Regions from separate parts of the Homo sapiens genome. Here region 2 is linked to region 1. A link means that fine-mapping ties the variant in region 1 to the expression of a gene that starts in the linked region. Tissue or cell type: nasal epithelium. Region 1 holds a variant in brackets; the other region holds the start of a gene. All regions are shown on one strand. Distances are between the middles of the regions.

Region 1 (8,111 bases):
CAAGAACATGCTAGCATTAAACAAGGACAGTAGGAAAACAGAAAAGAGTTATTGGAAATTAAAAATACGATTCCCAAAAATGTGGTCAGTGGGGGAACTACTTATTAGAAAAGCTGAACAGCAGAATGGAAATAGTTGAAAATCAGGTTTGTTGCTGGGAAGCACAAATTAAGAAACTATCCCATAATGATGATAATTTAGGAAATATTTCAGAAGAAAAAAATGGAGGAAAAACAATATTCAAAGGAATAATAGATACTTCCCCAAAGCAAAGAATAGAATATTGGAAGAGAAAGGGCCTACCAAGTATTGAGAAGCAACACGTACCTGCACACATCCTGTTTGTGTAACTTTTGGTTTTTAGAGTTAAAGAGAGAATCCTATAAGGTTCTAAAAAGGAGTGAGAATGAAAAAGGTTATTTACAACCCACATCCCACCCTGCCACTAAATGTCGTTGGCCTGTCACAAATAGATAGGAGAACAATATCCACAGAATTCTGATGGACAAGGAATGGGAACTGAGTCGATGTGCATCCAAACTATCATTCAAATTTGCTAGCAAAATAAACATATTTTTAGGTATACAGAGACTTAACACATTCCATGTGTATACCCTTTCTGAAGAACATACCTAGATCTACTCCAGAAAATGTAAGATAAACTAGAAAAAGGAATAGACCTGGGAAAATATTATTAACAAATATAAAAACAGTAGGTTAATATTCATAATATTAGTCATATCAGTTAAATTTTTTAAAAGACAAATAGTAGAGAAATAGATAAAACATCTTAACAGTTTACCAAGAAACTTTGCCTGGCCAGTAGCCTTCTACCTTCACTAATAATTGAAGAAGTGCAAATAAATTGAGACTTATTCTTGTCTGCATAAAATTAACAAGTATTTTAGATTTTAAAAATACCCCATGTTAACTAAAGTGTAAGAAAAATGGCTGTATCAATTTATATTACCACATAGGATTTAATTTTGGCATAGTCTATTAATTTTAAGTGATGCTCTTTAACAAAACTTTCCCATTTCTAGATGTCTATCCTACATAATTATGCAAAGGTATATGTATATATAGGAATGTTCAAAGCAGCCCTTTTTATATTACAGAAAATTGAAAACGGTATGGGGAAAGTTTTAAATTGTAATACCACTGTACAGTGTAATACTACACACAGCACAAGAATGATCTAAATTTATGTGTAATTACCTGGGAAAGATAGCTATAATAAATAAAAAATGTAATTGTGTAGTGGTATTATTATGATCCCAATTTTTTAAATGCTATATTGTGAATTTTTGAATACTCATAGAAACAAATCTGAAAGGAAGCACATCAAATTGTTAATAGATGTTAGATCTAGAGGCAGAGGAGGGTGGGAGTACAAAGCAGACATTTATTTTATATACTTTATAATAAGCTGCGTTATTTTTATAATCAAAGGGAAAAAATTTAGCTGTCTTACTCATCCTTCAAGATCTGTATCAAGAATACCTCCCTTAGTGGATTATTTTGACATCTTACCAGTCAGACTTGCCCTGAGCTCCCATAGCGGAATTATTTTACTTTGATAATCCTTATATCATTTTACTTTGTACTCTTGTTCATGTGTTTTCCTTATTGTTTGTTTCTGAAAATCCTTATTTTATCTTTCTGGAAATGAACAGTTTTCTTTCTTATATATGATAAAGTTCTGTCACATAGCATAATCTGTTAATCCAGTATCCTGTTTTTGTAATACTTACAGAGAATATATAGACTATGCTAGAGGCTACTGTAATAAAATGGGTGTCTGATGTTTGTTCTCTTTATGTTCACCCTGGGATTTTTAAAGTAGTAGCTGAATGTTTTTCTGAAATAGATCCATGTATAGGTGAAGTGAAAAATCACATGACATACAGTCAAATGTTTACGAGTCAAAATATGGGTGTCACACTGAGGGTAAGGATAAATATATGCTTTTATATTTATATTAAATACTTTTAAATATTTTCTTTCTCTAAGTTTGGAATAGTTGATGCTGATGGATATTTAAGTTTGTATCAAACAAACTGGAAATGTTGTCCAGTTACTGGAAGCATGCCTAAGCCATACCTGGTAAGCCAAGAATTTCTACCTTTAAATAAAATTTGAATTTTCATTTTAAATAAACCAAGAATACGTATTTGAGACAAGAAATATAGAACTAATAAATAAAATATAGTCCTGTGTTCTCAGTCACTTTGCTGTAAGATTCTGTCCTTGTGTTATGTGAAAATTACTCTGTGAAGCATAAAATTCCTTAGTCTCTGATAATTTGGGAAGTTGACATGTATAGAAGCAACATGATACCCCCAGATACCTATACATCTTGTGGATTACTAGAGCCCTTTTCTAACCTCACTAAACTGGTTATTATATTATGCCTAAATAGAATGATTACCAGACCAATGCGTCTGGTTATTTTTCTGCAATTATCTCTTATGAACAAACAAAGTGAAAAGGACATCCTATAGCTGGTACTGTTATTTTCTTGTTCATCTCTTTTAATTTAGGATTATGCAGGCTTTTATGAACTTTCTGTGGCTTCATAGAATACTGAATTTATATTTCATATCTTCAGTGAAGCTCTTTATAGGACTAAGCAATTCCTATCAGAAAAAAAGTTAAGAATATAGGTTAAGATTCTGGTAATTTGCCCAAGGTTAATTGCTAGAATACAGTACTGATCTAAGTAAAAGCAAGCAAGCATGGGAGGATTGATTAGGGTACCTTGAAAGAATATTAACTGTTTCTCATATTTTTATTAAGCTTAAAGATTTAGATGTATAAGTTTGTTCTCTAAGGGACTGTTTTTTTTAACTTTTAAAAAAATGAATTGGTTTAAATTATGAATAACTGGCTTTTGGAGATTAAGAGGATTTTGTCTGTTTTAAGGACACATCATCTAGCCCAGCTCCAGTAGTGTTCCAGGGGAAATGGGGAGTTGGCTCAAAGGAATAATCTTTGGTGTGGTGATTTTGGGATACTTAAAAAAAATCATTTTTTATTAAAGAGAAATATGTAAAACATAATTTTGAAGCTTTTATAAATGAAGAAACCTCATAATTAAGTGTACTGTTTGGTAGAATATTGAAAAATGCTATATGTTTTCTAATTTTGATGACTATTAGTAATTTTTTTCATGTACTTGAATTTTTAAAAGCTTAAATATTTTTGAAAAATATATGTCAATTATTTAACAAAAGTCTGGTATCATCTAAAATTCTAGTTTCTATCTTCTGAAACAGAAATTTTCACTATGCTAGGAGAAGGTCTTTAAGTTTAACCTCATGTTTTCCTTTGAACTTTTGGTTGAACAAAAGCAAAGAGATTCATAACGGGTCATGATATATGCAGCCTACTTAAATAGTTCAGGAAAAGTGTGTGTATGCGTGGGTGTCTACAAATATGAAAGAGAAGTAGAGGCAAAACAAATGTGCCAAAATGTTAAAAAGTTGCTGCATCTGGGTAAAAGGTATATGAAAGTTCTCTGTATTACTTTTACAATTTTTCTAAAGTTCAAAGGAA[A/G]AAAACGATACAGAGGATTTAAGAAAGCCAGAAACTACATGATCACTTTTCGAAGAATACATTTACCTGGTTATGACATTTTTAGTGAGAGGAGTAACACGTATTGTTTGTAACCATTCCAGACTTGGCAGTGTCATAACAAAACAGCCAATGATTTTGTCTTCGTTAGTTCCTCCTCTCTGATAGCTACAGCTGGTCTTTCAACTGACAATAGGTAAGAGATGATAGCTAAAATTGAAGTATGAGAAAGTATAGCTGAACTTTTTTTTATTGTTTCTGTCCTTGTGTTTGACTAAAGTTTACTTATGGCTTTAGATACAGTATTTTTATTCTAAAAACTATTATTTATTGGCCATGTTATTCCAGCCCCACCCCCAAAAGCTGTGGTTGTAAGAAAGTGTCATCTCCTGCCCCAGTATCTGTCTGCCTCTTTTGATTTCTGTTATATAACTGAGTTCTGAGATCAAGGCCCACTGAGTTTGCTTAGCTTATATATTTATCTGTAAGGCCACACTTTGCACTAGAAACAGGATTGTAAGACTATAGATTCTTCAGCTCGTCTTCCGTAGATATTTCTTACGTATGTTGGTCCCCCCACACAGTAGAAACAAGTTTTCTTTGTGCTTAAGAAAATTCAGCATCTCTCCTGTTAATGTATGTCAGTCCAACTGTTAGAGATTCAGTGAATACAAAAAGAAGTTTCCATATTCAGACTTCATATATTATTATTTGTAAACGCATGTTAATCTAAAGTTATTCAAATTTTTAAGCTATAATAGTAGCTTTAAATTTTCTGTAAAAATTGTGGGTCGGGCACAGTGGCTCATGCTTGTAATCCCAGCACTTTGGGAGGCCGAGGTGGGCGGATCACTTGAGGCCAGGAGTTTGAGTCCAGCCTGGGCAACATGGTGAAACCCTATCTCTACTAAAAATACAAAAAATTAGCCAGGCGTGGTGGCAGGTGCCTGTAATCCCAGCTACTCTGGGGGCTGAGGCAGGAGAATCGCTTGAACCTGGGAGGCAGAGGTTGCAGTGAGCCAAGATCACACCATTGCACTCCAGCCTAGGCAACAAGAGTGTAAAACTCCATCTCAAAAAAAAAAAAAAACAAAAAATTGTAGCCAGAGCATGTTGGCTCATGCCTGTAATCCCAGTGCCTTGGCAGGCTGAGGCAGGAGGATCATTTCAGCCCAGGAATTTGAGACCAGCCTGGGCAACATAGGGAGACTCCATCTCTACAAAAAAAAATTTAAAAAATTAGCCAGACATGGTGGCACACATCTGTAGTCCCAGCTACTCGGGACATTGAGGTGGGAAGATTGCTTGAGCCCAGAAGGTCGAGGCTGCAGTGAGCCAAGATTCCACCACTGCATTCTTTTTTTTATATAAAAATTAGTTTCATATAAATTTGTTGGTTACTTGTATTTGTTGCTTTTATAAATTTAAGAACCTTCTGTGACAGCAAGGTTTAAAGGTCACACAGTTATATATGACATATTTTTTATTGTTAGCTTTTGTGTCACTCAGAAGTAATCTTTTTTTTTTTTTCCAGAAACGTATGTTTGTGGGATACTCTTGTAGCACCTGCCAATAGTTTAGTCCATGGTAAGTTTTCAAAGCATTTTATAAATTTTGAAAGTCAGGAAATTCATAAGCTAAATATTATTTATAAGTGGATTTGTTACTGATGACACATATATTTATTAACCCATGAGATTTCTTTTGCCCAGGATGGCAGGATTTGAAAGCAAAAAGATGCAATATACGTAATTAACTCTTCACTATACCTTGATGGGGGACAGTGAGACATCGATAATATAAAAATCATTTGTCTTTACTTTGAATCTGATAGCCACAGGTTATCGTTGTAAACATGATGTAAACTCAATATTATGTCCCCTCTTACCACTCCTATTCAACATTGCACTGGAATTCCTAGCTAATGCAGTAACACAATAATAGGAAATAAAATGTATATAAATGGAAGGGAAGAAATAAAACTGTCTTTATTCACAGAAAACATAATTTTCTATAAAATATCCCAAAGAATCTACAAAATAAATTCACAAGTATAGCAAGGTCCCAGGATACAAGGTCAATATACAGTTGACCCTTGAACAACATAAGGATTGGGATGCTGACCCCTGCACAGATGAAAATCATAATTTTTTATTCCCCCCAGAATTTAACTACTAATAGCCTAGTGTTTACTGGATACCTTATTATTAATATAGTCAATTAACACATATTTTGTATATGTGTTTTATAGGAAGCTAGAAAAAAGAAAATGTTATGAAAATCATGAGTACATACAGTAGTGTACTGTATTTATTGATATTGTAAAGTTTATGTCATCTGTTTACAAGATGAATTTTCTGTCTGAGGCCGGGCGCAGTGGCTCATGCCTGTAATCCCAGCACTTTGGGAGGCCAAGGCGGGTGGATCACGAGGTCAGGAGATCTAGACAATCCTGGCTAACACGGTGAAACCCCATCTCTACTTAAAATACCAAAAAAAAATTAGCCAGGCGTTGTGGTGGATGCCTGTAGTCCTAGCTACTTGGGAGGCTGAGGCAGGAGAATGGTGTGAACCCGGGAGGCGGAGCTTGCAGTGAGCTGAGATGGAGCCACTGCTCTCCAGCCTGGGCGACAGAGCAAGACTCCGTCTCAAAAAAAAAAAAAAAAAAAAGATGAATTATCTGTCTGAAATGGCAGGCAACTACAGCTGCAGACCTCAATTTGTGGTGCATATCAAGCAATTCAACTTTTTTCTTGTAATGTCTTGACTTTGGTCTGCTTTTTGGGAGCACTTCCAGCATTACTAGTGGCATGTTGTATGGTTCCCATGGTGTTATTCAAGGTTTACACTGTTGCACTAAATACAATGAAAAATTCACAAGTGCCACAGGAGATCACTTTTCACTGCAATATACAGTTTACTGGAGAGAAGACCTGCTCACATGGAGATGATGAGCATCACACAGCATTTTAAGTATATACTCGCAACACTTGAGCTAACTGCAATAGCAACAGGAGGTGGCTACTAAATTATAACAGTAGTACAGTATGTACTATAATTAATTTTATGTACTTATGATTTCATACTGTATTTTTGTTTACATTTCTCGACTGTCGATGGCACCACTTACAATCTGTATTTGTGTGCGTATGTTTCAATAAATTTAACTTTTTGTAATTTGTGTATATTTTATGGTAGTAAATGATAAAATAGACTAGTATCTACATATGTTTTATGCATTCATGGCATACTTTTTCTTAATTTTTTGGATATTTCTTGGCTATGTGGGTTGTCTGCAAGTTTTTTCAAATTATCTCAAATCTTTAAAAAATGTTCCAATATATCTATTGAATAAACCACATCTAAGTGGACCCACACATTTCAAACCAGTGTTGTTGAAGGGTCAGCTGTACTAAATTCAGTTGCTTTTTGATGCATCAACAATGAACAATTGCAATTTGAAATTTAAAGAATATTACCATTTACAATAGCACCCAAAACAATGAAATACTGAGACATAAATCTAACAAAATATGTACAGGGTGTGTATGCACAAAACTATAAAAATGATTTAAATCAAAGAAGATCTAAATAAATGAGTGATACTCCACATTCACAGATTAGAAGACACAATATTCTTAAGATGTCAGTTCGTCTTGATTTTATAGATTCAACACAATCCTAATCAAAATTCCAGCATGCTACTTTGCAGATATCAACAAACTGATTCTGAAGTTTATATGGGAAAGCAAAGGAATAGCCAACCAAATACTAGAGAAAAACACACTTGTGGGACTCACATTATACTATCTGATTTCAACACTTATAAGCTACAGTAATCAAGACATTGTGGTATTAGCTTAAGAATATACATATAGATCATAGAACAGAATGGGGAGCCCACTAATAGACTCACATATATAGTAGACTTATGTTTAATATGTCACAGAGGCAATTCAGTGGAGAAACGATAGTCTTTTCAACAAATAATGCCAGAACAATTTAATGTCAACATATAAAAAATTGAACCCAGATACAGACCTCACCTTTCATAAAAATTAACTCAAAATGGACCATAAACCTGCATGTAATATGCAAAATAATAGAACTTCTGGAATGAACTAATTGGATAGAAGTCAGAATAGTGATTGCTTTTGTTGGGGAGGAGAATTGACCATGAAGGGGCATGAAGGAACGTTCTGGGATGATGAAAATATTCTGTACCTTGATCTTAGTGATGGTTACACAGATGTATTCATTTGTCAGTGCTCATCAAGGTATATACTTAAAAAGTGTGCATTTTCCTCTGGGAAGTTATATCTCAAAGTGCTGGTCAAAGTTCCTTCTCTGTAATTAATTTTATTTCAAGTCTTACAATAATAACTAAGTGTTTAGTTTATGCCATGGACTATACATGATCTGCATATATTAAATCCTCAGGCAACCCTATTAGGTAGGTGATAATCTCTTTTACAAATGATGAAACTGAGACTTAGGTAAGTAATTCAGCAGAAGTACACATTTAATCCCACACA
Region 2 (8,111 bases), 170 kb before region 1:
AGCGATTCTCCTGACTTAGCCTCCCAAGTAGCTGGGACTACAGGCACGTGCCACCACACCCTGATAATTTTTTGTTTGTTTGTTTGTTCATGAGACGGAGTTTCACTCTTGTTACCCAGGCTGGAGTGCAATGGCATGATCTTGGCTCACTGTAACCTCCACCTCACAGCTTCAAGCGATTCTCCTGCCTCAGCCTCCAGAGTAGCTGGAATTACAGGCACCTGCCAGCACTCCTGTCTAATTTGTTGTATTTTTAGTAGAGACAGGGTTTTACTGCGTTGGCCGGGCTGGTCTCAAACTCCTGACCTCATGATCCATCTGCCTCGGCCTCCCAAAGTGCTGGGATTACAGGCATGAGCCACCGCCCCCAGCCCTAATTTTTGTATTTTTTAGTAAGACAGGGTTTTGCCATGTTGGTCGCTGGACCTCAGGTGATCCGCCCGCCTGGGCCTCCCAAAGTGCTGGGATTACAGATGTGAGCCACTGCCCCCGGCCAAGAATAGGGATTTAGATTGGTCTATTTGGGGTGGGGGAGGAGGGTAATGACAAGGATTTCAAGAAATCAAGAGTGGGCAAGAGGCATGATTATTTCCCAATCTGAGCTAGCTTCCTATATGCTCCTTTTCTTTCCAAGAATCTCAGAATTTGGCCTGCTTGGGTTTCTTTAAACTATCACCACCCACTGACTCTTATAAAATTCCCCCTCTTCTTGAGATCGCGCCACTGCTCTCCAGCCTGGGTGACAGAGCAAGACTCTGTCCCAAAAAAAAAAAAAAAAATTCCCCCTCCTCTTGAAGACTAGCATTGAAAACCAAAACTTATCTTTGGCCTGCCAATCTCAGAAACCACATGGCACGTCGGTTATGTAAGACATCTTGCTGCTAGTAATAATGCAAACTATACAATAAAAGACTTCCTTTATTTTATTTTTAATTTTTTATTTGGTTTTTAAGAGACGTGATCTATTTTACCTAGACTGGACTTGAACTCCTGGACTCTCAACGATTCTCCTGCCTTAGCCTCTTGGGTAACTGGGACTACTGGCGCTGCATACAGCAAGACTTTTTTTTTTTTTTTTTTGTAGAGCCATCCTTTCTCTCTTATTTTTTTTTAGAAACTAAAAAAGAAAACCACCAAAGCACACAGTCAGTGAGCATTCAAAGGATGGAAGGATATAATTCAATTATAGTTGAGGGGATAATTAGACTCAATAATTCTCCGGGATTTTTTTTTTTTTTTTAAGACAAGGTCTATCGCCCAGGTTAGAGTACAGTGGCGTGATCATAGTTCACTGCAACCTGGAACTCCTGAGTTCAGGGATCTTCCTGCCTCAGCCTCCCAAAGCGCTGGGATTGCAGGTGTTAACCACTGCACCAGGCCCTTCTCCTGGATTTCTTGGATTAGCAGGTTGATTTGTGAGCCTTTGGTAGAAGGAATGTGGAGACTTTGAGCAAGTGGAATGGAGGCATGCAGTGCTGCCTTCTAGACCCGCAGTAAGGAAACAGGAACAGGAGGATGAGGGGCAAACAACCTAAAATTTACTTTCACCTCCTCCACCTTCTTATTAATCTTCCCATAAGGTCAGAGTCATGTCAAAGTTGCACAATAAATCAGGAATAGATTTAGGATTCGACAGAACCTTAGTAGGGGAATTTTATGACATTAGGAGATGATCTGTGAGGGGCAGCATCTTGGAGGCAAAGGGAATTTTGTTTGTTTGTTGTTTTTTGTTTTGTTTTGTTTTGTTTTTGGGATGGAGTCTTGCTCTGTCGCCCAGGCTGGAGTGCAGTGGCGCAAGCTCTGCTCACTGCAAGCTCCGCCTCCCGGGTTCACGCCATTCTCCTGCCTCAGCCTCCTAAATAGCTGGGACTATAGGTGCCCGCCACCACGCCTGGCTAATTTTTTTTTCTGTATTTTCTGTAGAGACGGGGTTTCACTGTGTTAGCCAGGACGGTCTTGATCTCCTGACCTCATGATCTGCCCGCCTTGGCCTCCCAAAGTGCTGGGATTACAGGCGTGAGCCACCGCGCCCCGCATCTTGTTGCTCAGTTTTATTCTAATACGTGGAATGCTCTTCAAAACTAACAAATGGGCAAAATAGAATGAGTAAACATGTTAAATTATGAACCAGCCACAGAATTTATGTGGGAGCCACACAAGTACAACAATCCTGGTTCTGGGTCTAAAATATAAAATTAAAAAGCACTTGAAGTATAATTTGAAATAATAAAAGACAAACTGTAGGTATGTTAGACCTCAAAAAATAAGTATATTTTAAAAAAAGACAAATTAAGTTTTGTCCCTTATCTTATGAAAAGCCTGGAATACATAATGAAATTCATTTTTTAAATAAGTTTCGGGTTTTTTTTTTTTCCCCACATCAGATGGGTAATGTGCAGATGATGGCGCAACAAGGTTTGAGGGAGGGACGTCTCACACAAGTGTGAACACACAATCATCCCACTTATGAACTAAAAAGTATCTCGTAAGTAGCTTTTTATTGTCAGACAAAGTAAATGTACATTGCAAAAAATGTAGTAAAAATAAAAGGAAATAAATTTACTAGTACTCGTCCCACCCTAGTATTATTATAGTTTGAAGTCTTCATACTACAACAAAAGGGGGAGTTTCTTTATTTTCTTTTCTCTCTTTTTTTTTTTTTTTTTTGACTTTCTCTCTTGTTGCCCAAGCTGGAGTGCAATGACACGATCTTGGCTCACTGCAACCTCCGTCTCCCAGGTTCAAGCGATTCTCTCGCCTCAGCTTCCCAGTAGCTGGGATTACAGGCGCGTGCCACCATGCCAGGCTAATTTTTTAATTTTTAGTAGAAACTGGGTTTCACAATGTTAGCCAGGCTGGTCTCGAACTCCCAACCTCAGGTGATCCCCCCGCCCCCACCTCGACTTACCAAAGTGCTGGGATTACAGGCGTGAGCCATCGTGCCTGGCCTATTGGAGAGTTTTGAGGGTTGTTTGTTTTGAGACGGGATCTCACTCTGTCACCCAGGCTGGAGTGCAACGGGGGTCTTGGCTCACTACAACCTCTGCCTCCCGGGTTCAAGTGATTCTCCTGCCTCAACCTCCCGAGTAGCTGGGATTACAGGTGGGAGCCACCACGCCCGGCTAATTTTTGTATTTTTAGTAGAGAAGGGGGTTTCACTATGTTGGCCAGGCTGGTCTCGAACTCCTGACCTCGTGATTCACCCTCCTCGGCCTCCCAAAGTTCTGGAATAATAGGCGTGAGTCACCGTGCCTGGCCTATTTGGAGAGTTTCTATACACATTCATGCAACATTTACAGAACACCCTGAATGGGTGGGACTGGTGCGGTGCTAGACATTAAGGACAGACTTGTGTCCTGTTCCTCTGTATTCCAAAGAGGCTTACGGTATACAGGGGGAGACATATAAACAGATGTTTGTCAATTATAATACAAAACTTGTGTCAAAATACAATGAGAGTTGAATCTCAGTTTGTAGCTGTGACTCTGATCATTCTGGAATTCCTAGGTTCTTTTCCAAAACAAACGCTCAATGCAGGGCTGGTGTGTTGTTATTACCAGCACTATTTCAAATCACGTGTTAAGATAACTTAGGCTAAGAAAATACCACTTTCCTACTTGTCAAGTGTTCGAGCCTTTCAAAAACCATCCCGTTTAGGGACTTGGAAACACGCGCAAGGCTGGAGAAACCATTAAGCTGCTAACGTAGACGTTTCAAGGGTCACATTTACTCAAGAGACACTCAGGTCGCCCGGGGGAGCGGTGCATATTGGGACTTGTAGTCCTACCAGAACCGAGGAAACTGCAACTCCCTTTAGGATGCACTTCTCCCCTTTAAATTTTCTGGCCCAACAGTTAGATGACGCCCTAACCTAAAGCACAACTTACCACATCTCACTCATTCTGGGTTCATCAGGCTTCTGCCAGGCTTATCAGGTTCAAGCTCAAACGCACGGCGTTCTCCTGTAGAAGCCTCAAAGAGATTGGCTTATTCTCGGTGGTGGGCGGAGCCCTAGGTGGACCGGGGGTCGGGATTGGCCAGTTTCTGACTAGAAGAGGCGTTTTTATGTTCACTTGCTGATACGCACGCTGTGGTAAAAAAGTGAATTCTTTACCACAGTAGCAGCTGCCCCGAGCGAAGTCTCGCGATATTTCGGCCGCAGGGATCCAGAGGCGCGTAGTGAGTGGCGGAGGACTGTGGGGGTGGCGGGCACCGGAGCCGGGAAGGGACAGGTCAGGCGGGGAGTGCGAGCGCGTACTGCTTGCGCCACTCGGGCTGGGTCAGGAGCGGCTGCCCGAGGTCCAGAGGAAGTGTGTGGACAGCGCGGCCTTCCTGGCCGGTGAGTCGGCCCCGGGTCGTGGCCGGTGAGGGGACCCTGAGCTTCACCTGGGCTAGCGCGGGGAGTGACAGGTGCGCGAAGGAGCGCGGCGCTCCGCCCTCTCGCCGACCCGCCCCCTCCGGGCCTCGCCCTCCGGGGCTCGGGATGAGTCGCGGGCCCCAGCTGAGCGGCTCCGGCTCCAGGCGCCTGTCGCTGCTTCTGCCGTCGCCACCGAAGAGCGGCCGCCGCCCCTGAGGGAAGGAGGGAGGGAAGCAGCCGCTGACCCGTGGCATGAGCTGGATGCGGTGTCCGTTGCAGGACTAGGGCGCCGACATGAACCTGCACCAGGTGCTGACCGGGGCTGTGAACCCTGGCGACCACTGCTTCTCCGTGGGCAGCATTGGCGACCAGCGCTTCACGGTGAGTGAGGGAGGCCCTCGCGTCGCCCGTGGCCCGGCCTTTGCCCGTCATTCTGGGCCGAGCTTGGCCCAGAACGACGGGCAGAGGCGCGAGGTCTTGTCTCCCCAGGGGGGTCCTTACCACCCAGAACCCAGCAGACCTGGCCCTTGAGAACTAAGGAAGCAAAACCATGTCGGTCAGTGAGGTACTGTATGGAGCCTGAACTCAAGTTAGAATATTTTGTAGGATTTTTAAAGTTTTTGGTCTGTCTGCCTTGGGCCAGGGTGCTTTGCCAAAGTCGTTTGTTCAAAAATCTTTGTTGAGTAACGAGTTGGGGGCTTTTTTATACCATTCTATAGGTTCAAATTGTCAAATTTAGGAATAGTGGAGATTGGTTTCATTTTGTATTCTAAGTTAAGGTCAAGTATCTTTGTAGTTAAAAAGTGGGTGTCTCAAAACAATTACCAATTGTTTGCCATCAACAACTAGCCTTGAGAACAGTGTTTTTCATTTATTTTCTTTTCTAATTCCCTGAGAAATAACTTCGGAAAGAAAAAAAAGCCTTTTCATTTTTAAAAATATTTCTTGGATATTTTACAATAACCTGGTAATCCCAGGTTAAGGTTGCTTAACTTGCTTTTCATTGGTCACATATTGACAAGAAGAGGGCACCAAATTTCGGGCTACTTGTCAGTATAGTGGCATTTTTCTACCTTAACTATAGGTTTTTTTTTAATAACAATTTCAAAATATAAGTCAGTAATTGCACATGATACTTTTATCTACATAAATTTATAATGCTAATGATTTTTGCTACAATTTGTGTAGATACCTCTTTAGTTGTGATTAAAAGTAAAACTTGTCACTGCCTGGGAATACTAAGTGCTGTAGGCTTTTTTCTTTAAAAAAAATAAAAGTAAAACTTAATTTTGTATAAGTGACACAAAGTAAACAACGTAACCAATGCCCCAGGTTTAGGAGTGTTAAATTTCTAATCTTTTTCTCTGCTTTTAATTTTTCTGTGGTCTTTGTTGGTCAGAATAAATAATACTCAGCATTTAAAATGGTGGAGGCATTTAATGCCTGAATTGTACTTTTAGAATTGTGCCAAGAAGCATTTTGTTTTCAAATAGAGACTGTACCTCCCCTTTAGATTGACTCATACACATCTTAATTATCGGGATTCCAATTCTAAATGTTTGCCCAGCCTGAATACTTGGGAAAAGAGTGAGCTCTGAGGGTCCCAGTGAGCAACTATAGTTTCCTTACACCTGGGCATTGCTCTCTGCTCTTGCTGCTTGAGAGGAAAGTAAACATCATCCTTAGAAGGTTTTCCTAGTGGGAAATTATAGGATAATATTGTTGCATTCTCTGTCATTTCCTAAATTTATATGAGTGCTTTCTCCAGTGTAAATTCTAAGAACTTTTGCTTTTTAAAAACTTTTGAAATGAGGTCTCCCTCTGTCACCTAGGCTGGAGTGCAGTGGCGGGATCACAGCTCACTGCAGCCTCGACCTCCCCGGCACAAGCCGTCCTTCCACCTTAGGCTCCTGAGGAGCTAGGACTACAGATTCTAATCACCACGGCTGGCTAAGTTTTCTATTTTTTGTAGAGAGGGGTCTCCTTATGTTGCCCAGGCTGGTCTTGACTTCCTGGGCTCAAGTGATCCTCCCACTTCAGCCTCCCAAAATGCTAGGATTAGAGGCGTGAGCCACCATGCCCAGCCCTAAGAATTTTTTCTAAGAAGGCATTCACAATCTATGTAAGCAGTGGTGTGAACTTCAAAGCATATGCAGTATGATGGCCTATTTATATACCTGGATGCATTCCTCTATAAAACCTTGGTGAATGTCTGTGTATTGTTTTTAAGGAGAGATCAGTTAATGTGCCGAGGAGGATTAGATAGATGGTCATCCTGTACCATCATGTAGCTTGTTGCTCAGTTCTGCTGAATTTTAAAGTTCATTTCCATTGAGTAGGATTTAATCTCCCACCAAGCCTACTGCAGATTTCTTCCAGGTCTCTGGAAGCATTCAGTAAATAAACTAAAAATAAATTTTTAAGTATAAAGAGAGTTCAGCTCTCTTTAGTTTTGATGGAATTTTAAGGATTTAACAGTCATGGTTTTCCTTTGCAGCCTGTTCATCCTTGACTCTTTAAGTTGCTTACGCTCATTATCCTGGACACTTATATACACCTTAAATTTTTCTCTCTTGAAATCGCCCTTTTTTCTTCTCTCATGTTAAAAGGCAGAATCTATTGTTTACTTCTTGAGTTGTTTTGTGTTGTTTTTTTTTTTTGAGACGGAGTTTCGCTGTCGTTGCCCAGGCTGGAGTGCAATGGCGCGATCTTAGCTCACTGCAACTTCCGCCTCCTGTGTTCAAGAGATTCTCCTGCCTCAGCCTCCTGAGAAGCTGGGATTACAGGCATGTGCCACCATGCCCTGCTAATTTTGTATTTTTTAGTAGAGGTGGGGTTTCACCATGTTGGTCAGGCTGGTCTGGAGCTCCTGACCTCAGGTGATCCACCAGTCTTGGCCTCCCAAAGTGCTGGGATTACAGGCGGGAGCCACTGCACCCAGCCTTGAGTGTTGTTTTTAACCTTTTTTGATTTTGACTTTTCTTTGATAGGAAAATAGTAAACATTAATGGTAGATGGTATGTGAAGACTAAAATATCCCTCAGTTGCATTTTACTTGAAGTGGAGCATGACATCTTCCTCTTGCAGTTCCCCTTGAAAAATTCTTTTATTCCTTTTGGTACTTTGTGTTTTCTTTTAGGACAGTCCTGCTTTTGTAATTCCTCCCTTTGCATGTTTGCAGATAACTTACGTGTTCTTGGTTTGAAAGATTACAAGATGTGAGATCTTGTTTTACTCATAAAGCCTGACAGGTTTTAAATGGAAATGAAACTGAATGCCACTTCTCCTATTTTCTAGATTTGAAAATATGAAATTACCAACGCAGATTAGTCTATTTAAGTATTAGATACTTTTTTACTACCTCATCAGGCATCAAGCTGTTTTGACTTTGCTCTTAGTAAGAAAACCTCTTGTGGGCAATGACCATCTCTCCTGTGCTTTCAGAGCACTTTCTTTGCATCTTTATTCTATCATTAACCAGTCTTGCCTTGTGGATTGTATGTGTATGACTTCCCACGCTTCATTGTGAGCACCTAGAACAGTGATTGAAAGAGTGTTTAAACCTAACAGTAAGGTCATTACTTGGAGTTGATTTCCAATGTGGTCCCTTTTAATTAGCTGTTTATCCATTAGCAAGTTATACTCTTGGAATTTCTTTTTTTCTCTTCTGTAAAATGGGACTAAAAGAGTATTATTCATAGAGTTGCTACATGAAAAAGTGCTAAGCTGTAAGTCCATGGTTTAGCACATGTAA

The links. PIP is the estimated chance that this variant, and not a neighbour inherited with it, causes the effect.
Region 2: it holds the start of DMXL1, and the variant in region 1 is fine-mapped to the expression of DMXL1 in nasal epithelium (TOPMed, PIP above 0.99). The same link has a PIP of 0.9 or more in lung and monocytes.

What each region holds. Positions count from the first base shown.
Region 1 is chr5:119,235,309-119,243,419 of GRCh38, forward strand. DMXL1 (Dmx like 1) reads left to right here. Exons shown (of 44, transcript NM_001290321.3): 40 at 2,014-2,106; 41 at 3,681-3,772; 42 at 5,111-5,163. Among named protein-coding and RNA genes, the nearest start is that of MIR5706, 85 kb to the left of the region's middle. The variant A/G (reference allele first, on the strand shown) is at 3,559.
Region 2 is chr5:119,066,919-119,075,029 of GRCh38, forward strand. It overlaps DMXL1 (Dmx like 1), which reads left to right and starts at 4,169. Exons shown (of 44, transcript NM_001290321.3): 1 at 4,169-4,738. The coding sequence starts at 4,652. It overlaps DMXL1-DT (DMXL1 divergent transcript), which reads right to left and starts at 3,972. Exons shown (of 3, transcript NR_134250.1): 1 at 3,888-3,972. It overlaps LOC124901209 (small nucleolar RNA U13), which reads right to left and starts at 2,482; the gene lies at 2,379-2,482. RefSeq lists silencers at 3,936-4,015, 4,326-4,605.